Linked DNA regions of Homo sapiens: all the other regions are linked to region 2. Evidence: fine-mapped expression QTL. A gene starts in region 2. Each other region holds a variant in brackets. All regions are shown on one strand. Distances are between the middles of the regions.

What was found.
Region 1: its variant is fine-mapped to the expression of BCAT1 in whole blood (TOPMed, PIP 0.97).
Region 3: its variant is fine-mapped to the expression of BCAT1 in whole blood (INTERVAL, PIP above 0.99).
Region 4: its variant is fine-mapped to the expression of BCAT1 in whole blood (TOPMed, PIP 0.97).

The regions. Positions count from the first base shown.
Region 1 is chr12:24,892,503-24,900,011 of GRCh38, forward strand. It overlaps BCAT1 (branched chain amino acid transaminase 1), which reads right to left. Exons shown (of 11, transcript NM_005504.7): 3 at 1,773-1,973. Among named protein-coding and RNA genes, the nearest start is that of BCAT1, 53 kb to the right of the region's middle. The variant G/A (reference allele first, on the strand shown) is at 5,037.
Region 2 is chr12:24,944,762-24,952,270 of GRCh38, forward strand. It overlaps BCAT1 (branched chain amino acid transaminase 1), which reads right to left and starts at 4,340. Exons shown (of 11, transcript NM_005504.7): 1 at 4,166-4,340. The coding sequence starts at 4,171. It overlaps BCAT1-DT (BCAT1 divergent transcript), which reads left to right and starts at 4,402. Exons shown (of 3, transcript NR_199054.1): 1 at 4,402-4,569. RefSeq lists enhancers at 4,234-4,583, 4,704-4,793, 7,074-7,143.
Region 3 is chr12:24,900,714-24,908,222 of GRCh38, forward strand. BCAT1 (branched chain amino acid transaminase 1) reads right to left here. Exons shown (of 11, transcript NM_005504.7): 2 at 1,101-1,172. LOC124902898 reads left to right here and starts at 1,257. Exons shown (of 1, transcript XM_047429951.1): 1 at 1,257-7,192. The coding sequence starts at 1,877. The coding sequence ends at 2,617. RefSeq lists enhancers at 1,816-2,317, 3,812-4,534. The variant G/T (reference allele first, on the strand shown) is at 2,418.
Region 4 is chr12:24,867,917-24,875,425 of GRCh38, forward strand. All of the region lies in intron 5 of BCAT1 (branched chain amino acid transaminase 1), which reads right to left. Among named protein-coding and RNA genes, the nearest start is that of BCAT1-AS1, 52 kb to the left of the region's middle. The variant G/A (reference allele first, on the strand shown) is at 3,301.

The DNA of each region.
Region 1 (7,509 bases), 52 kb before region 2:
GCACATTAAGTTTGAGAACCAGTGACCTGGGCTTGGGCATATTATTCCTTTCAAATTTAAAAGCACATAGCCAGGAGCAGTGGCTCATGGCTGTCATCCCAGCACTTGAAGAAGCCAAGGCAAGAGGATTGCTTGAGCCCAGGAGTTTGAGACCAGCCTGGGCAACATGGCAAAACCCAGTCTCAACAAAATATGTAAAAATTAGCCAGACATGGTGACATGTGTCTGTGGTCCCAGCTACTCAGGAGGCTGAGGTACGAGGTTTGCTTGAGCCCAGGAGTTTGAGGCTGCAGTGAGCCACGATCGTGCCACTGCACTCCAGCCTGGGTGACAGAGCAAGAATCTGTCTGAAAAATAAATAAATAAAAGCACTTCATTTCACCTGTTCTTTATTATACCTTATGACATGGTGAGGGCTTGTGGCAAATAATGAAAGAACTCATTCAAATTGACATAACAGGAAGAGCTGGGAACAGAAACTTAGATTCCTAAATTCAACATTTTGTGGATACATATGGACAGTGAATATCTTTCCAAAATTATATGAATTTATAATTTTGAAGGAGTTAATTGCAAAAGCATCCTAGTAATTTTGGTGTATACATGTAGGGGCTATATAACAGAAAGAAGCTTCTCATTGGAACCTTAGCTCCACCCTTACTGCTGTGTAATATTAGTCAAGAAACAACTCTTCTGAGCCTCCTTTTATAATGGATGAGACCACTGCTTCAAGAGTTAATTATTATTGCTAACAACTGGGCTCTCGCTATGCACCAGATATGACTCTATATGCTTAGATAAATTACTTTATTTTATACTTATGAGATCACTGTAAGATAGATATTATAACTACCCCAATTTTATAGATAAAGAAATTAAAGCACAAATGATTAAATTCCTCAAGTCATAAAGGTTCCTATGGAGCAAATGAGACCGAATTTGAGCCCAGGATGTCTGACTTCAAAGCCTGAATGCTTAATCACATGCCTTCTCACTTAAGGTAATTAAATGAGATGATTCATATATGGAACATAATACAGAACGTATTGCAGGAATTCAGTAAACAAAAGTTGTTATTTTATCATTAATCTATTAATATTTTACTATTACCATATTTTAGCACTTAATAGGAAGACTATTATTATTTCCAGCACCCCTATTATTCTGGGAAAGATGTCCAAATCATTCAAAAGTAAAATACAATGAGAATCAAGACAATGGGAAGTATACTGTGCATCTGGTTAATTGTGCACCCTGAAAAGGACCAGAGAAAGAATTCTTTAAACATTTTATGCTTAAAATTATTTCAACTCATGGCTGAAGGAGGACATTTAATTACATGTCCCTTAACATGCATAACTAGACATTATTACTGGTCATAAAAATGTGGAGTTAGCATTAAAATCAAATCATAATATTGTTCTCAATGACCCTTTCTCAATTATTAGAAGATCTAAGAAGAAAGGTGACTTATTAAATTATCAACAGTGCTGGCTTTTTAATTGCCAATTTTCCCACCAGCTGTCCTTTCTATTTGCTTTAAATAATTTTTTTATTGACGTCACAGAAAATGCAAGATTATCTGAAAAATTAGCTGCTAAGATTTATCTTCAATCCAACTGTCTATAGGAAAACTTTTAAAGACATTTTCGGCTTCCTCTGGTAAATATGATAAAGCCCATACTGCCCAAGAGCTATTTTAGCAGGAGAAGCTACTTAGTACCCACAGTGAAGTGCAAGCATGTCACTCTCTTTAATTCCCATGTACTTACTTCCACTGCATAGTGCAAAGCTGATGAGCCAGGGTGCAATGACAGGTTCTGAAGAGGCTTGATATGAGGTTTCTCCCATCCAAACTCTGAGGACCACTCCACCGTCAGCATATGATCCGTGAACACAGTTCCAAAAACCAGATTATTGGGGTCTGGTTTTTCCTTTAAAATGGTAGCTGGTGTGACTATTAGGTCTTTAGCCTGGGGAAGAAAAATCATCACTATTTACAGAAAAGCTACTGAGCATTCGCTGGCTAGATTATACAGAGGGGAAAAAAAAAAAGGAAATCAATTGACTTTTAAAGGTTAGCAGCTAACACAGAAATTTAACACTCTGAGCTGAACAAATCATGCCTGCATTCAGAATTCGGCCAGTTATTCATAATCTCTGCAATGTACACTGCCTAATAGAATATCAGAACCAAATTTCAGTGATATATAGAAGAGGGACAAAATAGCAGATGGGGTAAGATGATGCAAAAAAAGAATACAACCCTTTTTCACTCTCACCATAGGACTCATGTTGAGTATTTGGGAAAGATGAAAGAGATGTTTTCCCTAATAAAAAATGGCAACACTCACAATGATTTGTTAAACTAAAATGAATGTCATTAAGTACTGAACTGCTATTTAGCAATGGTTACACTCCAACTGCCCCAAAGAATTGTTGGCATAAGCCTTCAAAATCCTCTGGGTGCACTGGAGAAGAAATGAGCAAAGTGAAGCAAATGTTTTCCTCTTTGAAAACAGGAAAGTTGAGAATGAACACTAAGATATAAATCCTCTGTTCTGTGTGGAGGAAACAGTGAACAAAGGAACTCTTATTTAAACAAAGATAAATCAGAGTAATAGGAAACAACTCCCCACAAGCAGCATCTCACCAGCTCCCGACATAGCCAGTTTGCCCACTGCAAATGGCCAAACATTAAGCGTACAAATTGCATGCGATACCACCACTAACTTTATAGCATCTGTGGAATGCTGACAAAAACACAGGAGACCAGCACTTTGGGAAGCCGAGGCATGCAGATCACAAGGTTTGGAGATTGAGACCATCCTAGCTAACATGGTGAAACCCCGTCTCTACTAAAAATACTAAAAATTAGCCAGGCGTGGTGGCATGCACCTGTAGTCGCAGCTACTCAGGAGGCTGAGGCAGGAAAATCACTTGAACCCGGGAGGCGGAGGTTGCAGAGAGTCAAGATCGCACCACTGCACTCCAGCCTGGGAGACAGAGCAAGACTCTGTCTCAGAAAAAAAAAAAAGAAAAGAAAAGAAGAGAAAAGAGAAGAAAAAAAGAAACACAAGAGAAGGAACTTTTTGATCAGTTAAAAAAACAGGGGCAAGTTCAACCTGTAACAGGTTGTGAAGGGATGTCAAACTCCATCTCTTTGAATATACAAAAAAAGTCTTTTCCCTCCCAAATTAAATACAGACCTTCACTTTACATCATCAGCTCTTATCATTATTTTTAAAATGATCTAATTCTGTTTAATTCACTGCCTTGCAGCTACGTGAGTCATTTGATATATTATGAATGATAGTAAATTGTATTTTTAGAATAATATTCAGGCTGAAAACATATTCCAAAACAAACAGAAAGCTCATATTACAGTGACACAAAAGGCATTAAGGACAGAATATTACTGTAATGTTCAGGCTAGTCTAGTAATGCTACTTTGTAATATGCCAATAAAATGCCAAGTTTCAATAAAAAATTGACTTTGTTCTACCATTATTATTATTATTTTGTATTTTTTTTAGAGATAGGGACTCACTATGTTGCCCAGGCTGGTCTCGAACTCCTGGGCTTAAGCAATCTGCCTGCCTCGACCTCCCAAAGTTCTAAGATTACAGGCATGAGCCACTGTGCCCAGCCTGTTTTACCACTATTTAATTCAAGTAAAAACGTTAATTTAAGACTTTTTACTAAGTATAATAAGTTTATTTAAAGAAATATATTCCAGCTAAATTATTTTTATCTTTGAATCCCTTTTCTCTCCCGTTGTCCTCTGGACTAGGTAGGGGGTCAGGCAGACTTTACTTGCAGACCAAATGCAGCCAGCTGGCCTGTTTTGAAATTAAAATGTTATTGGAACATAGTCACGCCATTCTTGTATCTTCAGTGGCAGCACAGCCAACTAGTTGTAACAGAAACCTGATGGCCCTCAAGCCTAAAATATTTATCATCTAGCCATTTAAGAAAGTTTAGCAGGCCGGGCACAGTGGCACACCCTGAATCCCAACACTTTGGGAGGCCGAGGCGGGTGGATCACCAAAGGTCAGGAGTTTGAGATCAACCTGGCAAACAGCACAACCCTGTCTCTACTAAAAATACAAAAATTAACTGAGTGTAGTGGTGGGCGCCTGTAATCCCAGCTACTTGGGAGGCTGAGGCAGGAGAACTGCTTGAACCTGGGAGGCAGAGGTTGCAGTCAGCAGAGACACACCAGTGCACTCCAGCCTGGGCAATAAGAGTGGAACTCCATCTCAAAAAAAAAGAAAGAAAGTTTAGCAACCCCTATTCTGGACTATTTAGACAAGAAGTCTGGCTAGAGTATTCACAGTTGAATTCCAAAGCTAACACAGTGCCTAGCACACAGAATAGTAAAGGGTTTCTTAAATACTGAAGATGTCTGGCTGCTTTCAGATACACTCACAGAAGATGTCCAGGATTTAAAGAGAGTGAAATTCTAACACAAACTTTTTATTACATGAATAGTTTCACAGTATTCTTGCACAATAAACACCTGTGATTTACCTTAGTTAGCTTTTATCAGTGAATGGGGAGGACCCTGGGCTAAGAAACATTTGGAGCCATATCAATACAGTACGACAAACTTAATGCAAATTTTCTTCTACTAAGACTACTTAGTAAAAGGGGAAGGGTAGTAAAACACAAAACAAAAACAGAAAGATGAGAGTGGGTGACAAGAATGATTATGATCCAGTATATATAATTTTTAGTTTTCTGAGACCTCTCCTTAAAATACCCATAGGACCCACAATAACCCACTAATCCAGAGAGATCAAATTAGCGGCAAAGCAGGGATAGAATAAGGTAATTTTTAACCTCAAATAAGTGTTCTTATAATTAGAACTTCATAATATCAGTTAAATTTCTGACAATTAAAGATAAATTATTACATTTCTAGGTATGACTTCTATTTCAGTAAACTGCTACATTCTTTCGTAAGACACATTATTTCTTAATGATATGAATAGCAACCTCTAACTTTCTGATTTGTACCTAAGCACTGCCCT[G/A]TATCCAGTTTTGTTTTGTTTTGCTTTTTCTTTTAGATGGAGTCTCACTCTGTCACCCAGGCGGAAGAGCAGTGATGTGATCTGGGCTCACTGCAACCTCCGCCTCCCAGGTTCAAGTGATTCTCCTGCTTCAGCCTCCTGAGTAGCTGGGACTACAGGCATGTGCCACAACACCCGGCTAAGTTTTGTATTTTTGGTAGAGATGGGGTTTCACCATGTTGACCAGGCTGGTCTCGAACTCCTGACCTCAGGTGACCCACCCACCTCGGCCTCTGAAAGTGCTGGGATTACAGGTGTGAGCTACCGCGCCCGGCATATATCCAGTTTTTCAAAGTAATATACGATTAGGTGGCTTCAGAATCTCATCATGAACTTTTCTCTACTTGAAAAAAAAATTCTGCAACTCTGAAAACTAAAAATAACAACTTTTAACCTGAGCTCAAAGAGAAATTACCTAAGAATACTAAATTACTAGGTGATAGAATTGAATAAAGTTCAAACGTAAACAAGCAATATTAGCTGAAGACATGTGACTCGTTTGGGGCAGATATGAAATGTAGTTTTAAGGGAACGATTTGTTTCCTAAAGGAAACAAATTTTATAAACAATTTTTATCAGTGTTCTTTAAAAAGTATTTTCTTTTTCTAGATTTCCTTTCCAAAGATAAATAAAAATAATATTTTGTCAAATGATACTTTCTTCTGCATAATTAATCTGTCTCTTTCCAATGCTCCACATTCCCTGATGACATCGAAGTCAGGATGTTTCACATCATATGTTTGTGGAAGAATTGGAATGCCACAATAACTGATTGTGAAATGGCAAGAAATATTGAGAAAAACAGGGCATATTAAAAACAACTTCCTAATTCAAAGTTTGCAGTTGGGTAATCATTTGTTCTGAAATAGGGAGGCTCAGGGCAGGGAAGTGTAAATTTGTTGAAAGCACCTGAAAACTGTTTCAGCCAGGGTTCAGTCAACACTTTTTTTTTTTTTTTTTTTTTTTTTTGCTCTGTTGCCCAGGCTGGAGTGCAGTGGCACAATCTCGGCTCGCTGCAACCTCCGCCTCCCCGGTTCAAGCAAGTCTCAAGCCTCAGCCTCCCAGGTAGCTGGGATTACAGGCATGTGTCATCGCACCTGGCTAATTTTTGTATTTTTAATACAAACAGGGTTTCACCATGTTGGCCAGGCTAGTCTCAAACTCCTGACCTCAAATGATCCACCCACCTCAGCCTCCCAAAGTGCTGGGATTACAGGGGTGAGTCACCATGCCAGGCCTGTCAACACCTTTTGCTCACCATCGTATAGCACATTTGCTCTTCTCTTCATTGGCCACATTTTTCAAAAATCAAGTCTGTATTACAACTGTATCAGACATTTAATAACTTTATTCTAGGTTCTTGTGCATTATTCTTACTCCATTTGGAAAGCCTTAGGCACTATGTTCATCTTTTGGAGATACTCTTTTAAAATCTAATAAAGAGGATCATGAAGAGAACTGCAGATTTGCAGTGTTGCATTCTGTGGAGATATGTGAAGCTGGAGGAATTGGAAGAAATAGATGGCTGACCTCTTGCAAATGAAGAGGATCCTAGAGTCCACAGAAAGATTCGCCAGGATGTGTAACAACGTATCTCATTGCTAGGCCCTGCTGCAAAACTGCATCCTCATGTAATATGACTGCATCATAAATGGGGAGGGGAGAAGAAATACGAAAACTACCCAAGAGAGACCCAAAAGGCCATATGAAATGTTATAAATGATGTAGATTAACAAAAAGGTAGAGAAATATGTCAAAAGCAACCACAGTTAGAATGGTTATTATTAGAAAGACAAAAAATAACAGATGCTGATGAGGATACAGAGAAAAGAGAACGCTTATACACTGTTGGTAAGAATGTAAATTAGTTTATCTACTGTGGAAAATGGTATGAAGCTTTCCAAAAAAAAAACTAAAAGTAGAATGACCATATAAACCAACAATCCTACTACTGGGTATTTTCCAAAGGAAAGGAAATCAGTATATCAAAGGGATATCTGCAGTCCCATGTTTATTACAGCACTATTCACAATAGTCAAGACATGGAATCACCTAAGTGTCCATCAATGAACAAATAAAATGTGGTGCATATACACAATGGAATACTACTCAGCCATTAAAAAAGAGTAAAATCGTGTCATTTGTAGCAACATGGATGGAACTGGAAGTCATTATGGTAAGCGAAATAAGCCAAACACAGAAAAAAAAAAAAACCCAGAAAAACAAATATTGCATGTTCTCACTCATACGTGAGAGCTAAAAAAAAAAGTTGATCTCATGGAGGAAGAGAGTACTCATAGAATGATAGATATCAGAAGATGGCAGGGGGTGGGAAGGGTGTAGGTGGAGGAAGAGAGGTTGGTTAATGAGTACAAACATACAGTTAGATAGAAGCGATAAAGTCTACTGTTCATAGCAGAGTAGGGTGATTATA
Region 2 (7,509 bases):
TGCAAGTATTTCACAACTTTCAATAAGAAAGAGCCATATGTTTTTCAGTATGACTTCAGTTTATTACTTGTAATTTCCTCTATTTTTTTCTTTATTGGTCTTCCCTGTTTCCATTCTTCCATTTTCCTGTATTTTTGGGACATAACTGTCTCTTTCTTTTAGAGTTTGTTTTTCCCATTAATTACTGAACACAAGAAAAATGTTTTGCAAAATAGTCTTTCCCACCAAAAAGGTATAACAGTAGAAAAACGTTTATGTGACATGCTATGCTGTATTCATAAGGTAATCTAATTTCCAAGCTATTTTAAGGATATGAGTACTCAATTTTTAGGGGAAAGATAATTTAGCTTTGTGGACTTTAGAGCACAAATTATAAGCATAGTTGAAACTGATACCTGAACCTGGTGTTCCAGAAAAGACAGATTCTCCTTTGCGTTCACCATTGACATTGTGAGTCACTGACAAGGTCTTATGATGAAACTGTTTACCAATATTTGCAAAGTCATGTTTATGAATAAAAGCACCTAAATGCTTAATTTTGAAACATTTAAAAAATGTGAGTTGCACCTCACATTTATTTCTTGGCTGAACTGCATACAATCCCATTGCAGTGGCCTTAGTTGAATGGACAGAGGCTCAGGAAAGGCCAACAGTAGGAACATTTACCATATGTTAGGTGAAATGTATAGACCAGTTGGACAGCTGTTAAGGGGATAATGTTACAATACAAAAGCTGCCTATATTTTTGACAGTAAAATGAGCAGATCAGCCATAGTTTCCTCCTGTGCTCAAAAAGAATGATAGCACATGCCTGTAATCCCAGCACTTTGGGAGGCCGAGATGGGCAGATCGCTTGAGGCCAGGAGTTCCAGACCAGCCTGGCCAACATGGCAAAACTCCGTCTTTACAAAAAAATACGAAAATTAGCTGGGCATGGTGGTAATCCCAGCTTCTCAGGAGGCTGAGGCACAAGAATTGCTTGAACCTAGGAGGCAGAGGTTGCAGTGAGTAGAGATCACTCTGCGGCACTCCAGCCTGAACAACACAGTGAGATTCTGTCAAAAAAAAGAAAAGAAAAAAGAATGATAGCATCATATAGAAAGTAGAGGATAGCTGGCACAATTATGTCTATCATGGAAGGTCCCAGATTCTCACTCTCCAGTATAGCAACCAAACCTTCCTGAGCATAAGGCTGATCATGCCACTGGGTTTCCCTGGGGTGGGCATCTGTTATTTAAAGAAACTGTGGTTACCAACACTAAAGGGAAATAAAGAAAGTTCTTTATTTTCCAACTTCCTATACCAGTTGAGAAGAGGCCATTTAAAGAAGCTGGCAACCTGAAACCCCAAAAGATGTAACTAATACAAAGGCTCAACATAGCTGCCATTTAGAAACAATCTTTCATTTATGCACAGGAATAATTTACTCATAAGCCCAGCCCTCTCAGTTAGGTTAATAACACCACTATCAGTTTTCCAGCTGTTTACTTCCCTAGCTTTATTTCTAGACATGAGAAATAAGGAACAAAATATATAATTAGGAAAACAATTGGAATGTCAGCCTACGGACAAAACTGAGACAAAATTTATATAAGTAGAGAGTATATTGAGGTCAAATTTGAGGACTGCAACCAACGAAACACCAAATCAAGTTGCCCTGAATATATACAGCAGTTACAAGTGGGTTTTTAAAAGAAAAAAGAGGCAGTTTCTAAGTTGAGAAGAATTTATATTAAAATAACATAAACTATATAAACTATTGATAGGCTAAACATTGTTTTTTTGTATCACAAATTCCAGGAACATAATGAGTGAGGCAGTTAGTCAGGAACAAAATGTCTTTAAATAATTACTCCTGCGCATGCGTACGGGGGGACGTGACTGAAGTCTCACACTCCTATCTCTCTGGGCCTGATAAATTGTGTAGCCTTCACAAAGCTCAGATCGCTCTGCGCTATTTTTCTTTTTTCAGGGAGTTGCACAGCTACTGACAGAAAGCACATCTTGGTTTTAGTCCATAGTACAAAACTCAATTGTGATCGAATGTTTTCAACTTCCTTTCATAATAAGGTTTTAAACTCATTTCAAATAATTAGATCTGGTTCTAATGAGCTGAAAAGCAAGAGAAATTCTTGCGTAAAAAAGGAAAAATATTTTTCCCCTTTTCTCTCTGTAGTTCTGAAATCCAGTGAAATTACTCATTACTGAAACTTATCAGATGAAAATATTGGCCAGCATTAAATTCTTTTCCTCCCCAACCCCCACCTCTTTTTTTCCTTTTTCTAACCACCACCCTTTTGTTAGGCCAGCTTAACTAGCTTTACATCTCTGAGCCTAGCCTGAGGGGCCACATCCTGTGTCTGGAATGTAAAACCTCTCTCCCCACTAGGCCTCCCGTCTTCCCTCCACACACACACACACACACACACACACACACACACACACACACACGGACTTCCCTTGCCTCCAATCCCATTTACATGTGTATCATTTTTAAATCCCCATCTAAATTTATTAAGTCATAATACTCACTTACCATTTTTGTACACATGCTACTCAGTGTATATCCTATGTTTCTTATCCAAGTTGCCCATTCTGCATGTGTCTGTCTTAAAATACAAGCTCATGCATGACTTAAGCCCGGAGAATTTGCTGAGGACAAAGGCAATCAAGATGCCATGTGCAAATAACATTTTTTTAAAAAATCAAGCTTGTGATAGCAATACATATTTAAGAGATAAGTGGAAAGATGTTTGAAATATTGTGATAAAACTAACTTAATGGAACCTTCCATACTTCTTCGATCATACCTAGAATACAATCATTTCTTTCTTAATCTTAGGAAATATCAGGAAACAGAAAAGAGACTACTTGTAGATATCTTACCTAGTTCCCCATGTTATAAAAGTATCTTGTGGAAGGGACAGGGGTTTTTGGACCTACAAAAACGCGTAATTAACCACAACTGCACATGGACAGGAAAAAGCTGGAAAAGCAAGACTGTTCATTCTTAGTTTTCTCCTTTTACTTACTAAAGCTATAATCAACTAAAGTGTGTTTTTCATCTGAAATGAAACAAGCATGAGGAAGCCAGAAATAGAACCTCTAACTATAGAAGAAAAGTTGTGTGATCTCTGTTGAATACAAAAACGCATAGTTTCCACTCGGTTACTGTTTAATTGTAGTGAAAGTTTTTGTTTGGCAACAAAGGCGCTATTTACATATTATTTCTTCTAAGTGAAACTATGGTCTGGGATGGGTTGTAGATAAGAGCAGTTGAGAACCACGCTTCATCTCCCTCCTTAGAAACTCTGAAACGAGGCTTTATTCCTACCAGAAGTTCAGATTGCATTATGGTCATCTCAATTCCAAAATGTTAGATGGCAAGAATATCTGCCCATCCTTCACTTTCCTTGGAAAAAGTTGCTCTTCGGGTTTTATATGCGATTGCAGTTTTCCAGTGTGTGAAACTAGGAAAACAAAACACTCAACGGTGTACATCCCTACACCTAAATAGTCAGAAATAATAGGCAGCTAGGCTAATTATCCTTGATTAGCAAGATCAGAGCCATTAGGGTGCTCACTGGTTTAACAAATGAATGCCCTTAGGCGTCTATCATTTGTAACTCCTAGAAGCTTTAATTTCCACAAGAAACAAAATAAGAGGGGCCTTCTGCTTTTAACAGTGAAAAGATCGTTCTCCCTCCCCTCTCCACCCGGGTCAACTCTTCCAGCCGCTCCCTCCTGCATCACGAACACACGCTGCAGGAAAGCGCATTTACAGCCCGGGACATCCCCAGACCTCCTCTCCAAAATTCCCCACCTCCTGTGCATAGGAGAAACTGAGAGAAGCCCTCACTTCCTTTCCAAACTTCACAAGCAGGGGAGGGAGCTGTAGCAGACTTTCACCTCCGTTCCCAAAAGCGAATGTGAAAAAGTCCGAGAAGGCACGTCCTGCGAGTGGAGGTTAAACCGAAATCTGAACAGAATGCACGGTCCCCGCAAACTACGATTGATAAAGAAGATACTGAGACGTTTGCGGGGGATATAAGCCATGGTTGTCTCGCCTTCCTCCCCTCCCTGCCAACTATGTTTCTTGGAGAAATCGCCGGTTCGATTCACGCACACATTTTTGTAAAACACGGACAAAACCATAAGTAGTTACCTTCATTGTTCCGTCGGCCACGAGGGAAGCTCGAGCTGAGCGGAGGGCAGATCCCAAGGGTCGTAGCCCCTGGCCGTGTGGACCGGGTCTGCGGCTGCAGAGCGCGGTCCCGGCTGCAGCAAGACCTGGGGCAGTGCCCGAGGCGGCGGCGAGTACACGTGGCGGGCTGGATTGCAGACCGGCCCTCTCGCGGCGGAGACTCGCGACCTAGCGGATTGCATCAGCAGGAAGACACTAAGGCTGCTCCCCCAGGCCGCCCCCAGATGGTGGAGTCTCTCCCAGCCCGAAGATTCGGAGCCAGCGCCCAGACCCGAGCCTCACTCACTGCTCACTCCCGGGGTGCAGGGCAGAGGTGCCAGTGTTGCAAGCAAATGACACGGTTACCCCCGAATCAGCCACTGTGGGTGCGTATCCGAGTGTGGGGATGCCCGTGTAACATTTATATGGAGACGTCAAGGAGGAGGAAATAAACAGATCAGAGGTCAAATGTGATTGCCATTCCGTCATCACTGGCTCCTGCCCACCTCCCTACTGTCCCCAAAGTAACTTTGCTGCATGCTGAGAGGACCACGGCACAATCCTGCCCAAAAGTATACATGTATCCCCCGCGGCTACTTTAAATGTACTTTTGCAGTAGTCAAGAACATGTGCCTGGTTTGCCGATCTCTTTCCCAGAGTTCCTTAGTCACCCTCAAATATAACCATTTTTGCCAATTTATTATGTACATGGGGGAAAATTTTTAATCCTTTAATTTGAGCATATAAAATTCTTTATAATGTGAAATTGCCCAGTAGCCTAGTTGGTCCCCTGTAAGTTCCCTCCCCACATCTATACAAAGCTCCAGGATTGCTACTTTTCCATGTCCAGCGCCTAGGTCAGCCTCCATGACTGCTTAAGTGTGCTGCTGGTTGACCTCCGCTGCCTCTCTGTCAAGCTGGCAAACTCCTATTTTTGTAAATTTCAACCCAAGTCTTTGCTGTGGAAGTTGCTTCCAATGCCCTCAAACAGAACTGGGCCCTTGGTCTATGTGCTGCACTTTGTCCACATCCTTTCTCAAAATCAATTATTTTATTTTATCATTTTTTAATGGAGATGGGGTCTCACTAAATTGGCCAAGCTGGTCTTGAACTCCTGGCCTCAGCAATCCCCTCGCCTCCGCCTCCCAAATTGCTGGGATTACAGATGTGAGACTGTGCCCAGCTTCTTAATTTTACTTTAATTATTTGTTTGCACAGTTGTCACTTCAGTGGATTATGAGATTCGTAAGGGCAGATCCTTTGTCATATTTATCTCCCATACCAAGTGGCCTGCCGTGGAAGAGAGGGAGTGTTGAAAACAAATGTGTCAGTGCTTAATGACTGTTGGTCAGGTGAATGAATGGTTAAATTATGTGTTCAATAAATGTACTGAGTGATTTCTACATGCTAGGCTGGTATATAACAGTGGTTTGTAATCTGAAATGTCTCAAAATGGAGCCATTTATGACAAGGGTTTCAGCCTCCAGTGAAATTGCTGACCCCTCAAATTGATAAGCATATGTATGGTGGACTGAGGTGATAAGATAACACCTGCTGTGGCCTGGCACCATTGGCAAGAGAGTAAAGAGAGAGGCAGCTGAGATAATGGCTATGGGCACTTGCGGATGCTGTGAAAACCAAAAAGTAATGAAAACCTGAAAGTAACTGACCACAGCCAAAATGCTTGCAGAAGTTCTGCCCTGAGAAATCTGTATCTGTAAGCATTTAATCAGCCATTGAGTCCTTGTGAAACCTCCTGGCCCCCGTCAGTGAAAGCACAGCTAGATAGATTTGAACCTGACACTGACATGAGACAGGCAATGTGCAAAATGCTAGGGACTGAGTGGGAAACAACAAAAATGTTCTTACCCTCATTAAGCTCATATACTAGTGTGAGAAACAGAAAGTAAGCTTTAAATCAGGTAGCAAAATGTTTATCAACTGAGGAATGGCTAAATAAAACATGGTATCATCCATACAATGGAATATTATTATATTCTGCAATAAAAAGAAATGAAGTACTGATTACATGCAGTCACATGGATGAACCTTGAAAACTATGCAAAGTGAAAGAAGCGTCTCACAAATGACTACATATTATATGATTCCACTTATCTGAAATGTGCAGAACAGGAAAATCCATAGAGACAGAAAACACATAGTTGTTTTCAATCTGGGGACAGGGTGGAATGCAGAGTGAATGTTCATGGGCGTTGGATTTCTTTTTGAATTGATTAAAATGTTCTCAAATTAGATTGTGGTAATGGTTACACAACCCTGTGAACACACTAAAAACCACTGAATTATACCCTTTAAATAGGTGAATTGTATGTTATGTGAATTATATCTCAATAAAGATGTTACTCTATGGCCCGGCATGGTGGCTCACACCTGTAATCTCAGCACTTTGGGAGGCTGAGGCAGACAGATCACTTGAGGTCGGGAGTTCGAGACCAGCCTGGCCAACATGGTGAAACCCCGTCTCTACTAAAAATTAGCCGGGCGTGGTTGCGGGGTGCCTGTAATCCCAGCTACTCACAAGGCTGAGTCACAAGAATCGCTTGAACCTGGGAGGCAGAGAGGTTGCTGTGAGCCAAGATCATGCCACTGCATTCCAGCCTGGGCAATAGAGCAAGACTCAGTCTCAAAAAAAAAAAAAAAAAAAAAAAAACAGGTACCATGTGGTAAATTTTATGAGAAAGAGTAATAAGGGGATAGAGAGTGATGGGGTCATAGATATAAATGCATTAATAAGTTCTAGAGCAAGCCTGGCAATTACTCCTAGATCCAACGACCGCCCCTCGCCCCCCTCTCCCTCAATGCAGGATTTTTCTCAGTCCCTTTGCCAGTCAAGGACCTCTAGCCGGCAATGCCGGAGGCCTAGCTCGGGGCATACTACCTGCTGCAGGAGGCACCCCACGCAATTTGCCCGCCTGAGACAAGTTTGCCTTGCACATTGGTTCCTGAGTTCTTGCCCCATGCCCAAGAAAAATGAAGATGTGCTGACAATTGAAGAGTGAGCAAGGCGGGGAGTTTTACTGAGGGATGAAACAGCTTTCAGCAGAGAGGGAAGCGGGGGTGGTCCCCCTACCCGAAGGCAGGAAAGTCTCCTCCATGAGGCTGAGTCCTGGGGCTTTTTATCGGCTCAGAATAGGGGAGGGGCAGGCAAACAGGAACAGAAATTCTCACTCTGCGTCATGGATTTCATCCAGGACCAGCAGTCTGGTCTTTCAGCCTTCAGGCTGTTTTTGGCTTGAAGGTACAGTTTCACCTCCAACCCTGTTGCTGTTACCCCTACTTAAGGATTCTTTTGATGTTAGCAACAA
Region 3 (7,509 bases), 44 kb before region 2:
TGAGGCCAGGAGTTCGAGACCAGCCTGGCTAACATGGTGATAACCCCATCTCTACTAAAAATACAAAATTAGCTGGGCGTGATGGCACATGCCTGTAATCTCAGCTACTCAGGAGGCTGAGGCAGGAGAATCACTTGAACCTGGGAGGCAGAGATTGCAGTGAGCTGAGATCGTGCCACTGCACTCCAGCCTGGGTGACAGAGCGAGACCCTGTCTCAAAAAACAGAAAAGAAATTGCAATATTCTAATTTTGCTTTTTAAAAAATCCTTGCTAAGATGACAGCAAGAGAAGGAAAAAGAAAAATAAAATAAAAATTCCTTGCAAGTAGAGACCTAATCTTGAATTCACCTTTGGATGTCCAATGCATGGCACAGTCTCCAGCACACTGTGAGAGAGCTCAATGTGTGAGAAACTGATGAGTCAAGTTTCCTTCCCTCTCTGAACCGCCAGGATGTGAGATCATTAGGACACTCTGTGTCAATTGTCTGATGACAATTGACAGTGACTCAAACAGGCAGAAGAGCAGCACTAGGCATAAAAAGAAGAAGCTAAAACCTCCACGAGGAGGGAGGGTAGGAGATAGACTTATAGAAAAAATAATATTACATCTTACATTTGTATTTGTACAGTTTTCAACGTGCTTTGTTTCTCACTGTTTGAAGTATGAGCTATTTACTATATAAACCCCGCAATTCAGATAGAAAAGAAGAAAATGCAACACTTTCACTGTAGAGTGTTATGTGCTACTGAAAGAGAAAAATCACAGTTTAACTTTTTCTACAAGTAGACTGAAGGTTTGTACGTATTATGGAATCTGATAAACAACTAGTTTAATATTTACGCATTGACTATTTTTCAAGAAAAATATATGACTCAAAATAAAATCAGCAATTAGCTGCTAGATAATTTTTGTTGTGATGAATGTACTGTCACTCTCTAAATGGCTTTTTTTCCTCTAAGAGTGGAATTTTAAAAGTCTGGCAACACAACCTAGGAACTGGGTAACCCACACAGTGAAAATTTCCCCGAATCTCAACAAGAAATGGATTTATTCAGTTGAACGTTGCTTTAGACACTAAGCCTCTGGCAAGCAACTTACCTTAAAAGTCCCCACCACCTCTTTTGATCCTCCTTCTCCGGTACACTCTGCGGAGCATCCGTTACTGCAATCCTTAAAGAAGAATTAAACCACCATTAAGTAAATGCAGGTGGGTAAGCGGGACCCGGGGTAACCTACGTGACGCTCACCATGATACCGTGCGCTCCTCTCCAGGACCCAGGCAAACACAAAAAAGGAGGCTCAGACAACCAAGCACCCAGGCCCGAACCTCCAACAAGCGTGTCTTGGGAGCGCTGCCCTGCACTTCCCACCCTGCCGGGGTCGCGGCGGTTTTTGTCCTCCTCCGCCGGCTCAGGGAAGACTGGTTAAATTCCAGGTCAGCCCTACAGAGCCAGGGTTCGCCGGCAAAGAACAAAAAAACAATTGTCTCCCTTATATCCGAGCAAATAGTCTAGACTGGGGTGTTAAGCCATTTATAGAAAAATCTCCAGGGCGCGCTCAGCCTCGTGGTCTTGTCAATCACAGACGCACAATAGCAAGCCTGCAAAGGGAACGGGGACGGGCGTGAACCATTTCCTCCACCAGCAGGGTCCTCCGATGCCGCAGCATCCACCCCACACCTTAAACCTCATGGTATTAGTGGGCAATTTAAAAGATAAAGACACAGGGAAGCGGGACTAATTGGGAAAACCTGCAGACATTTGTTTTAATGCGTAATCTGCTAAATAACTACGGGGGTGGGGGTGGGGAAGGAAGAGATCCAAGGAGGCAGAAGGCTGCGGTCAAAATATTTTGGGGTGGCAGAGTCACGTAGGATGTGGCTGTGGGTTCTGGCAGCCCAGAGATTCAGCTCCCGCCTCCTCCCTCAGAGCGAGTCCATAGCTACCCTCACGTCCCCCGTGGCGGTCCTCGCCACGCTCCGGAGCGGGTTACCCATGAGGGTGCTAGACCTGGGCAGCGGGAACCTCGAAGAGGTGGAGATTGCAGGCTGGGACTCCAGATTTCGGGCAGGGATGCGGGGAAGGGAAGACGCCTCGCTGGAGGCGGAATGGAGGGCAAGGCGAAGGAGGATGGTGCAGGAAACGGCGACAAGGCGCCCGGCCAGGCCCGCGAGCTACCGAGACCCGGGTTCCAATCCTCCCCCCTTCCGCAAACGCCCGGGTTCGAGGTACCTGGCGGGCAAGGGCCGCAGCGGAGCGAAGCGGGCTGGCCATGGGGAGGCTGCGGGGACGCGGGGCTGCAGAGAGCGGCAGTGGCACGGAGCGCGCGGCTGGAAGCGAAAGCAGGCGGTGTGGCCAAGCCCCGGCGCACGGCCCATAGGGCGCTGGGTACCACGACCTGGGGCCGCGCGCCAGG[G/T]CCAGGCGCAGGGTACGACGCAACCCCTCCAGCATCCCTTGGGGAGGAGCCTCCAACCGTCTCGTCCCAGTCTGTCTGCAGTCGCTAAAACCGAAGCGGTTGTCCCTGTCACCGGGGTCGCTTGCGGAGGCCCGAGAATGCGCGCCACGAACGAGCGCCTTTCCAAGCGCAGATATTTCGCGAGCATCCTTGTTTATTAAACAACCTCTAGGTGAATGGCCGGGAAGCGCCCCTCGGTCAAGGCTAAGGAAACCTCGGAGAAACTACATTAGGGCAGCTTTTCCACCGACTCCAAATCCAACTGACAAAAAGCAGTTTCTGCCCTCGAGAGTTTGCGGGCGGGGATTGACATTTGTGCGTCTGCTCTTGTCTGCCACTGACCGCTATGTGCAAACTGAAGGGGGAGAACGTGAATCCAGCTTTTAGATTTCCCTGCGCCACCTACCCAAACCGAATTTGTAACTCGGGGTGTTATGGGGCTACCAGGCTCGCATTCCCTAAGGGCCATTTCTGCCCAAAGATCTCAATGCCTTTCATCGTTTTCAGGCAAAGCAGACCATCAAGAGCTCCAATCATACTGTTTTCATAGTTTTCCGATGTAGGCTCGTGATCGCAATATTTAGAAAGAGGACTGGAAAAGTGATGTTAGAAGTACTATTCGGTTTAGAAAGGGAAAGGAGGATTGGAATAGCTATTGTCTTATATGCAGTGTTCGCCTGGGGCAACGTCAGCCTAAATTATGAGCCTTCCTGGTTTTTAAATTAATAGGAAGTGGTAACTGGGGCTGACTTGATCTTGGAAAGAGGGGGAGGGCAGTTTATTCTGGGTGAAAGCGGTTAAATCCGGTTTGGTTTTTTAAATGGTTTCATACAACGCTACTGATAATATACTGTAGCTCTAATCTTATCAACTCAGAAAACCTACACTTTTCCTCTCCTTTATACAAGGCACAGAAAGGCCTCTTACGCTGGGGTGGGGTCCCAAGCTCCAAAGACCACAGAGTCCAGGCAGGTCACGTACCACCATAGAGCGGCGAGTGTCCCTGGAAGTCCAGGGTCGCTTATAAGATAAGTTTTGTCCTTGTTGTTTTGAGACGGAGTCTCGCTCTGTCGCCCAGGCTGGAGTGCAGTGGCGCGATCTCGTCTAATTGCAACATCCGCCTCCCCGGTTCAAGCAATTCTCCCATCTCAGCCTCCCCAGTAGCCGGGACTACAGGCCTGCGCCACCACGCCGGGCTAATTTTTGTATTTTTTGTAGAGACCGGGTTTTGCTATGTTGCCCAGGCTGCTCTCAAACTCCTGGACTCAAGCCACCCACCTATCTCAGCCTCCCAAAGTGCTAGGATTACAGGCGTGAGCCACGGCGCCCGGCCTCCATCTGTATTAACTGCTTCTATTTCCTCCCCATTAAGGGCTTCTGTCCAATTATTCCACCTAAATAAGGTCTCTAATAGCCTTCATTTTGTTCCTGCCAATGGTTTTGCTTCTCGTGCATTTTCATGGCTGCACCTATGTGCTGATGACTCCCAAATATATTTTTTCAGTCCATCTGTCTCCTGAGCAGTAGGTACTTGCTACTCAAAAATCTGTCTAAAATAAAAACGGTGTATCTATCCACCATGTTCGAAGCACTGGGCTAGTTGCTGGGGGAGGGTTGAGAGCATACCATCATCCTGTTATCATGCATTGCCCCCAGCCAGAGAGAAAAGTGTTAATTGTGTTAGAAAGTGTTAAGGAATCCCACAGACAGATGTAAAATTATAACAAGTGCTGCCTGTGCTCTAAGAGCCTCTAATAATGGATTGTATTGACTCAGAAAGGCCTGGAAAGGCTTTCAGCAAGTGATCCTTGAGCAGAAATCTGAAAGATTAAAGAAATTTACTAAAGGAAGAAGGGATGAAGAGCACCTGGTATGAAAGTGAGTTCCAGGACAAAAGAACTTCTCTGAGGAGGGCTGGAACAAAGGGCCAAAAGAGAGCCTGGGGCTGCGGTAGACAGAAGAGGATGGAGCTTGGGCTAGTGAGTAGCCAAAGGGCCAGCCAAGTAGTGCCTTAGGGAGAGCTAAAGAATAATTTTAAAAAGCAAAAATAAGGTAAAAGCCTGACTGTCATACAGGTATAAAATAAACTAAATTATAGAGTTTATTTAAATCATTTAATGAAGTTACCAGGCAGATATAAAAACTGGTTCAAAGAACAGGCATGTTTATAGGTCAGAAATATTGAAATGAATATGCAAATGAAATTGGCTTCTTCCACAGTAGGGGAGAGAAGTTAATTGAACCCTGACCTTCAGATTTTACTTGCATGACTGCATGCAATAATTATTTTGCATTTCTATCAGTCATCTGTAAAATAACTCAAAAACAATGAAACAATGTAAGACCCAATGAAAGGGCCCATGGAATCAGAATCAGATAACCTTAAAGGTTTGCTCTAAATAATTCAGTTTTCCATTGAAGTACAAATTTTTCCCTACAGTACGGTAATATAATTTCTTCATTCAAGAAGTGCTATTAGTCAGCAACAGCTGAAGTAAACCAGACATAGTAGTCACTGTACTTACTAGTTACACTAAGAAGCTGTAGCTTTAGCAGTTTTCAATTTAGCTTAACCTAGGGGCAAGAGAAACCATTGAAAGGTTAAGGATTAGGTGGAGTATGCAGGAGCGGTGACAGAATTGAAGGTATTGGCTGCAGTTTGGAGATTGGAAGAGGGTCTGGGTGGAGAGGAATGGATTTTGAAGAAGCTATTACAGAACCCACATACGAGATGATCCTTTTAATAAGTCAGATTTGGCTGGTGGTTGGTAATAGAAGTGGAGAGAAACAGCCAGATTTCAGCAAGAATGGAGATAAGGTGGCAGCCTGGGCAACATGGCAAAACCCTGTCTCTGGTAAAAATACAAAAATTAGCCGGGCTCGGTGGCATGTGCCTGTAGTCCCAGCTACTCACGGGATTAAGGTGAGAGGATTACCTGAACTTGGTGAGGTTGAGGCTGCAGTGGGCCAGGATCACACCACTGCACTTGCCTGGGTGACACAGTGAGACACCATCTCAAAAAAAAAGAAAAAGAAAAATAGATGATATAAGGTGGGACAAGGATGAGAGAAGTGCCAAGGAGGCCTCCTTGGATCTGACTTGCTTATCTATTTGGTGATGTTCACTAAGAAAAAAGGAATGTTGAAAAAGAATGTGTTTGAGGGGATGAGGAGGAGTCTGGTTTGGGACCTATGATTTCTGAAGTGTCTCCAAGACTGGCTGTGAGAGATCTGCCTGTCTGAAGCTCAGAGAAGAGGTCTGGATTAGAGGTATTATTGAATCATTGGCATAGAGGTGGTAACTGAAGCTATGGGTGCGAAAGAGAATCTCTATGTCAGTTTTCTCCGCTGTAAAATGAGACAATAGCAACACTTCATGTTTGTCAACTGGGATAGATGAGCATTAATATATGAAACTTATGTATATTACTTAGAACCATGCCTGATGTCAGCCATGCAGAATAGGTGAAAGAACGGGCATGGCTCTGTTTCCATTAAACTGTATTTGAAAAACGGGACAGAGCAAATGTGGTCTGTGGACTGTAAGTTGCTTACTCCTGCTCTATGTAGTTGCTCTAGTAGAAACATAGCAGTTGTCCCTCAAATGCATCCAAGTGATGATCACCAATGTCTATCCATTCTTGCTCCAAATACCCTGACAGTTGCCATTTCTCCAACCATGTTATCCGCATCCTAGTACCAAACAGCTTCCAAGCAGCTCCTCTGACCCCAGCCTTGCTTCTCTTTAAGCCATTCTTAGCATGACAACCAGTGAAAATGTCTCAAACGCAAATCTGAAGACATCTCCTCTTGGTCAAAAAACCTTCAAGGCTTCACATCACCCATTTGACAAAATGATTGGCAAGCTCCCAGCCCATCCCAGATTCTGCCTTCTGCCTCTGACTCTCCAGCTCACCTTTTGCTAGGCTCTTTCTTTCTCTCTCCCCCCACACATTTAATTTATTTCAGTCCTTTCGGACATCAGGCCTTCTCACAGGTGCCCAAATACCTGTAACATTCCCTGCCTTTGCCAGGCACTGTCATCCTTCCTTGTTCAGTCCCTGTGCCATGTCCTTGGCAGGAACGTCTCTGAACCCTGTCTAGGCTACAGTGGGTTCCTCTGCTGTTTATTTACATACAATGCTTGCCATTTCAAAATAATGGTAATATTTTATTCTAATCATTTGATTAATGCTCTTCTAATTTTATGATGGGAAGTTCATGTCTGTCAGGCCTCTGAGCCCAAGCTAATCCATCATATCCCCTGTGACCTGCACGTATACATCCAGATGGCCTGAAGCAACTGAAGATCAACAAAAGTGAAAATAGCAGGTTCCTGCCTTAACTGATGACATTCCACTGTTGTGATTTGTTCCTGCCCCACCCTAACCGATCAATTGACTTTGTGACAATACACCCTCCCTGCCCTTGCGATAATGTACTTTGTGATATTTCCCCACCCTTGTGAATGCACTTTGTATGATACACCCTCCCCACCCTTGAGAAGGTACTTTGTAATATCCTTCCCTGCCCTTAAGGTACTTTGTAATATTCTCCTCGCCCTTGAGAATGTACTTTGTAAGATCCATCCCCTGCCCACAAAAAATTGTTCCTACTCCACCGCCTATCCCAAACCTCTAAGAACTAATTATAATCCCACCACCCTTTGCTGACTCTCTTTTCAGACTCGGCCCGCCTGTACCCAGGTGATTAAAAAGCTTTATTGCTCACACAAAGCCTGTTTGGTGGTCTCTTCACACGAACACACATGACAATGCCTATATTATTCACCTAGCCATCCCACCTCACCCAGTGCCGGACATGCTGTGGAGAGTTAAAAATCTGTTGAACTGCAGCTCTCTAATATTTTAGAAAGCATGTACTTAATATACTTTGGAATTTTAACTGCCAAAGTTTAGAATATAATAGACTAACATGTTCTCAGGGTCCACTCCACTCCTAGATATGAGCTTCTTTTCTTCATAGAACTGCTCTCCCTCACCCTAAATCTTTCTTCTTCCTTTTTTCCTATTTTCTGCCTTCCTCTACTCGT
Region 4 (7,509 bases), 77 kb before region 2:
ATCGCTTGAACCTGGGAGACAGAGGTTGCAGTGAGCCGAGATTGCACCACTGCACTCCAGCCTGGGAAACAGAGCAAGACTCCGTCTCAATAAACAAAAACAAAAAGAAGATAAAGCAGTGTTAGCATTTGTTACAAAATTACATGCAAAAATAAAAATGCCTATCACGAGCCAAGCAATGCAACTCATGGCAGGAGAAATGGCAGATTCCCTCAGAAAACGTACACCTCAAAGAAATAAGAGGCTAGTATAACTAACTCATGAATCACTCAGGATGATCAGGGAAGTACTGCGTTGCAGTTTGATTCTCCATCTCAGTGTATAAAATAATGTTACATCTTGTAATTTATGACATTCTATATTAAATTCAGTACGGTACATATGTCCAATGGATACCCCACATCTAGGAAAATGGAAAAAAAAATAGGGGTGTATCCGTATGTGCCAAAATGAAAAGATCTCCAAGACAAATTTTAAGTGCAAAAAACAATAATACAAACAAAATTGTTCATAGTATCACCACTATTTATATTTTTTAAAAAGGAAGGTACAGATAGAGAGCCCCAAAATATTCTTCATCTATGGAAACATGACATATCAAAACTGGCACTGTAATCAGTGAGGAAAGGATAGACCACTCAATAAATGGTGATGGGACAACTTGGTCTCCGTGCAGAAAAATAAAAGAAATTGTATATGTTACTTGATAACAAAGTTCACTTTCATATGGATTTCATTTAAATGAAAAAAAGCAAAACTTTAAAAGAATGTTCTTGGAGTAAGAATTTATTTAACCTGTATGACCTTGGAGTAACAAAAAATTTCTTTAAAATGCATAAAAAGTATAAAACATAAAGAAAACTTTAACTACTTTAAAACTAAGTACTTCTGTTCATCAAAAGATATCAGTAAGAAAGTGACAAAGCAAGACACAGACACAGAAGCTAGCCACAGACTGGGAAACTATTTGCAGTACGTTTATCCAACATAGGATTTGCCATAGACTAGGAAGTTATTTGTGATATATGTATCAAAGGATTTATACCTAGAATATACAAAGATGCAAAAAATTAAAAAGACAAAAGACTTGCAAAGGCACTTCACAAGAGGACTTCTGTAGCTGGTAAACCTATGAAAAGGTACTCAACATAATTGGTTCTCAGGGAAATTAAACCACAAATAACACAAGACTGTATACATTAGAATGAGGAAAGTTAATAAGACAGTATCAGTATTGGCAAAGAAATGAAGCAAATACATACACCACTGATGGGAGAGTAAACTGGTATAAGCACTTTGGGAGTTTGGCAGTGAGACAGCCAAGTGGGAAGAAGACCCCAGAGAAACTCCAACCGGCCTGCACACTGGGAGGAGTGCACACTGGGGAGCCACAGACGGTCACACCATTCACAGTGGGGAGGAGCCTGGCCCCTCCTCTTCCTGGGTGGTACCTGGGATTCAATCTGCAAGGCAGGAAGCATGCTAGCAGGACCCTGGCTTTGTGGGGAGTCCCTGTTTCCCTTTTTTCCCAATAAGTTCCATTATTCTCACCTTTCAAATTGTCTGCGAGCCTAATTTTTCATGGCCTTGGGACAAGGACCCCATCTTTAGCTAAACTAAGGAGAAAGTCCTACAACAGCAGTATCTACTAAAGTGAAATATACATACACCCTGTGACCCAGCACTTCAACTCCTAGGTAAATACCAAAGAGAAGCAACTACATATGTCTGCCAAAATGTCCATCTGCAGTAAAAGAGAATACCATACCAGATGGGAGATGGGGGGACATAAAGAAGGAAGTGCTATAACCTCCAACGTGGTTGACTCTATTGGAGAGGGAACGGAGGCAAAGGAGAAAGGTACACAAAGGCTTTCCATTGAACCCATCATGCTCTCATCTTAACCATGTGCTGGGTCCTTAGATTTTCACTTTCACTCTTTTCTTTAAATTGTATGTTTATAGGTGTGTAATTTGTTTTAAAATTTTTGAGTAGTGGCAGAAACAGGACAAAGAATCACTGCCAATTTTGTAAAAAGAGAGATAATGTACAAACACATGTAAGGGTGTGTGTGTGTGTGTGTATATATGTGTGTGTGTGTGTGTGTGTATTTCTGAAAGGGTATAAGAAAAGCTGGCAATAGGAATTGCTTGGAAGGAGATGAATTGTAGAACCCTGGATGGAAATGAGAGTGTGAGAGTGAAAAGGAAACTTCCCATCTATTGTATACCTTTGGTTCTACTTGAATTTTTTACCAGATAATTTCTCTGCCAAAATGAAAATGAATAGTCCTAAACTTAGAAGCATTGTAATTGAACTTGAGACTTAATTGGCTGTGTGTATGTATGTATATGTGTATGTTATATGATATATATACATGTTATAAAATACATAATACAATATATAAAATCTGGTTAAATACATCAAATATAGTTGAGAGCAAGAAAGCTGATAGCTCAGAAAAGAAAAAAGTAGAGATGAAAGTAGACATAGTAGAATGAGATGGGAAAGAACTTAGTCGCCCCCATTGGGGCTATGTTTCCATGCTAACCATTCCCACTTCTTCACAGCAGTGACCGCCATCAATATGCACTCATTTAGTGGGTTTATATTATGAAAGTCTGACCCCCTGCCAGACACTGAGCTCTGTGAAAGCAAGAAGATAGTTTTTGCTCAGCACAGTATCCCTAGACTTAGTGCAGGGACTGACACATAAAAGATGTTGCGGGATGGAGGTTAAGAGAATACAGGCTCTTATTTCACCGCTTTGGACCTTACTTTCACATCCCTAAAATACTGCATAAGCACCTGCTCACAAGATTGTTATCAGGCCAAGCTCAGTGGCTCTTGCCTGCAATTCCAGCACTTTGGGAGGTCAAGTGGATCACCTGAGGTCAGGATTTCAAGACCAGCCTGGCCAACATGGTGAAACCCCATCTCTACTAAAAATACAAAAATTAGCCAGGTGTAGTGGTGCACGCCTGTAGTCCCAGCTACTGGGGAGGCTGAGGCAGGAGAATCGCTTGAATTTGGGAGGTGGAGGTTGCAGTGAGCTGAGATCACACAACTGCACTCCAGCCTGGGCAACAGAGCAAGACTCTGTCTCAAAAAAAGAAAAAAAAAAGATTGTTATCAGAGTTAGTGCATGGAAAGCACTGAGTACAGTGCCTGACAAGTGGGGTCACTTCTGATGCCAGACGACAGTGATGAGAACAGATCAAATGCCAATTTCGCCAAGGAGACCAGGCCATTCCCGAAAAGTAGCAGTACCTTCTTGGGGTGGAAGTGTAAGATGGGCCT[G/A]GGCCTTTTGCTGGGATATAATCACTTTCAATAATTCCTTGGGTTGTATGATTTTCCAGCTGTTCACTGGAGCATTGTGTGAGGTAGCAGGGAACTGGGATTCCAGTTAGGGAATTGGGATACAATGTGGAAGATGCCTCGCATCATGAACTATGCAACAGTTAGAAATGATGGACTTGATGTACACATAGTAGACTGGATAGAAATGGAACACACAGTGCTGGGCGAAAAAGAGAAGAAACACAATGAAATCTGTAGGACAAAGTCTCTTACATAAATTAAAATTACATGTATAAAAAGCGATGAGATTTTTAAAAACACATATAAGCCAGAATAATATTAATTTGATTCCTGAGAATTATTTCTAGTGGAGAGAGAGGAAATGAGAGTGGTGAATGAAGATAGAAGGGAATAAAACAAAGACAGGGACCTTATATGCCCCATGATGGAAGTACCATGAATCAGGAGCATAATTAATAACCTGGTGTACCTAAACTCCAAAGAGTAAAAAACATCCCCTGTGACAAGTTGAAATGAGCAAGAACAGCCTCAAGATGATACTCACTGGTAAGAGTGGCCAGATAATAATAAGCTGATTATAACAGGCTAAAATCAAGGCAAATAGACTGTATCTCTAAAAACAGACTCGATGTCTTAAGACACTAAAAACGGAGCTGTTAATATAAAATATATTGAGTTATGCAAATAAAACTGAATATTGTTTATAAACAGTGGAATATATATATATGTATATGTATTTCACATAGGACTATGAAAAAGAACACATTAAATGTATAGACAGTACCCAAATTAATGATTTATAAATTGCTGCTGTGCTAACTAGTCTTTAAATCTTTCAGATTCTTCTGTTCATAGAAACTAATTGTAAAGTAAAGGAAAAAGATGATCAGATGTATAAGCACAAATAGAGGCAGTGAATAAGGAAAATATTTTTCATGGGAATTGATATGATTACAGGCTGAATTGTATGTTCAATCTTAAGATTTAACAAGGTGATAAAAGGAAAAGAAAGGCATGTCTATGAAACGCACATGTCCTTAAGCTCCCTGTGGAGTGAACCAGAAATGAAGGAGTGAATCATTTGAGACAGACAAATCTCATCTCCAGCCTTTCTTCTGCCCACTCACAAAATGGCAGCAGGGTTTTAAAATGGGAGTTCTAATGAACATTTCATAATGTAAGATTTCCCAGGAAGTTGCAAATGGGGAAACTGCTTATGAGAGATGATTAAAATGTTGCTCTACATTATTCAAATTATATTGTGTGCATCCAATGCTGGTATTAACTAAATGCAGACAGCTTCTTTCTAGTTGAGCTCAACTCCAGAGATGTACTTACAGACAATCTAAGTGTAGGAGGATAAAGTTTACTGAAAAAGAGGAATTAATTAATTTCTGCATTAGCCAAAGTCAGCTTGTCTTTGAGTACATTTGAAAAAGTCACATCTGCAGGTAGCCTGCAAATCTGTGGTGGACAGCCTGGGATCTGGTCACAGTCCTGGTTGGGCTAACTCCTGACAGTTTCCAGGGCTGTCTCTAGCATCACAGATTCGACCCTTTTCAAAGACACTTATTCTCAGCCCTGGTATAGTTCAGTATTGTCTCACTCTACCACCTCCCAAATGGAGAGAGTGGGTGGGATGAAATGGGACTGACATATGCCTAAAAAGTGGAAGGCTAAGAGCAACAATCAAATGGAATTTCAGAGCTTGTGGTTGTGCATATTTCTGCTATTGACTATGGTCAAGACACCTCTACACTTACCAGAATCCCCGAGGAAATAAAGGTCTGGGTCTGTGTGTCCACATGTGTTTGTACCACTGTACCTGCATGGAGTTACTCAACAGGACGAGGTTAAAATCAGCAAAACCTGGCTTCCTTGGATGTAGTGTTGTTAAGTATCCAATATTGAACATGACAGTCATATAATTTTAGTTTCTTGTCTAGTAAAGTGAAAACTTAGAAATCATTCATGTAAATGTTTTTATTTAAATATTATGATCTGAGATTTTCTCTTAATTCCCAACTGATATGTAATCAGCAGTAGTTTAGAGCCCTCCAGACTGTAGTTTCTCTTTTAGATTTAACAACCCATAAATAAATACTTTAGGAGATACTGATTAAAATGCTGCTATAATCCTTTTTATAAATATGAGAAATCTTTTGGTAATGTGAATGATTTTACTCTCTAAACTTTTTACAAGAAGTTTATATAACATAATATCCAACAAAGTACATGGATTTAAATATTTGTGTACCATACTGATGCTATACATTCAGGTCAGTGATTATCCTGTATTATGTATTTATGTATTATAGGCTATACCTTATCCAAAAAGCTTCAGTCCAAAAAGCTTGGACTATCCCTTATCCACAAAGCTTCTGACCAAAACTGTTTTTGATTTAGGATTTTTTTCAGATTTTGGATTAATCTGCATTATGCTTACCAATTCAGCATCCCTAATCTGAAAAAATGAAATCTGAAATGCTCCAATGAGCATTTTTAGTCATGTCAGTGCTCAAAAAGTTTCAGATTTTGGAGTATTCTGAATTTCAGGTTGTTGTTTTCTTCAAATTTCCATGCACTGGTAGCCTGGTATTTTTAATTGCCAATCCCTACTCACTGGTTATATATGAACAGTTAATTAAACATGTTTCAATAATACACACTTCCATTTATTATCATCATAAATCTATAAGGATTTTAGTAATTGATTTAATTATTTATCATGAGGAACTGCACAAAAACATTAGTACAACAAGTATGTATCTATGAAGATTATTAAAAATGAAGGAGGCCGGGCATGGTGGCTCATGCCTGTAATCCAGCACTTTGGGAGGCCGAGGTGGGCAGAACACCTGAGGTCAGGAGTTTGGGACCAGCCTGGCCAACATGGTGAAACCCCGTCTCTACTAAAAGTACAAAAATTAGCTGGGCATGGTGGCACGCACCTGTAGTCCCCGCTAATCAGGAGGCTGAGGCAGGAGAATCACTTGAACCTGGGAAGCAGAGGTTGCAATGAGCCAAGATTGCACCATTGCACTCCAGCCTGGGCAACCAAGCGAGACTCTATCTCAAAAATAAAATAAAACAAAATAAAAATGAAGGATCAGTTAATTATAAAACATGTAAAGAGACAGAGCTTGGCAAACATAATGAAATATTTTAAGTCCATCCAATAGCAGAGCCACTCCCTAATTATATGGCAGTGACTGAATCTTATTTTATGTGAAAAACAATAATATTAGACTGTTATATCAGGGCCTATGGAAGTGAACTCAACACTGCCATTAGGATGAAGTTTAGCTTTCAATTATATAAATATTTCCACTTTGGTGCCATTAAAAGTTCAGCTTTCAATGACTTAAAGCACTGAAATTACTGGCAGACATATATTTCATTCCTTAACAAGGTTTGGGATGGTGAGTCCTTTAAAAGTGGTTATGAAATCTCTGGAGAGTTTGTTGAATGCAGAGTCTCTGATCCTGGCTCTAGAAATTTCGATTTGGGTCTGGGCTGGGGCCCAACACCAATGTGTCCATTGTAGAATCCTCAATGTTCTATAAACACAGCAACTACCATACCAGGGAATAGAGACTGGACACAAGTGATCAACTAGGTGTCTATAAAACCTAATACAGTAGCCTAACATAGATTTATTCATTCAAAGAAATCAAAATATCTCTTGGACATAAGACCCAGTTAATCTAACTATGAAAAGGACATGAAATAAAAACATATAGAAGTCAGCCAAAAGCAAGACAGGACCAAAAAAAAAAAAAAAATCACATAACTGACAGAGTTGAGCTTGCAATTATACTATGAAGACAATGACAGGATAGGCCCATCATAGAAACATGCAACATAAAAAGATAAGTAAAGCTAGTCATCTCTGATGAAAGAATCCCAGCAAACCTGAAGCTACTGGCACCAGTCTTCCAGCCAGTACTTCACATATCAAATGTAGCCACCACGAAAACCTAATGAATGATCATTACCAACATGAATTGCGTAACATCTGTAGGGGGCAGATCTATTTAAATCCATATACATTATTGGATGTTATTTGTATCATGTTCCTTTCTGAATCACAAGTGATGGTTTATTCTGCCTATACCATTAATTAGAAAATGATAGTTGATACAAATATACCAACCAAATATAAATAATGTCGGCTCCCCAAATGGT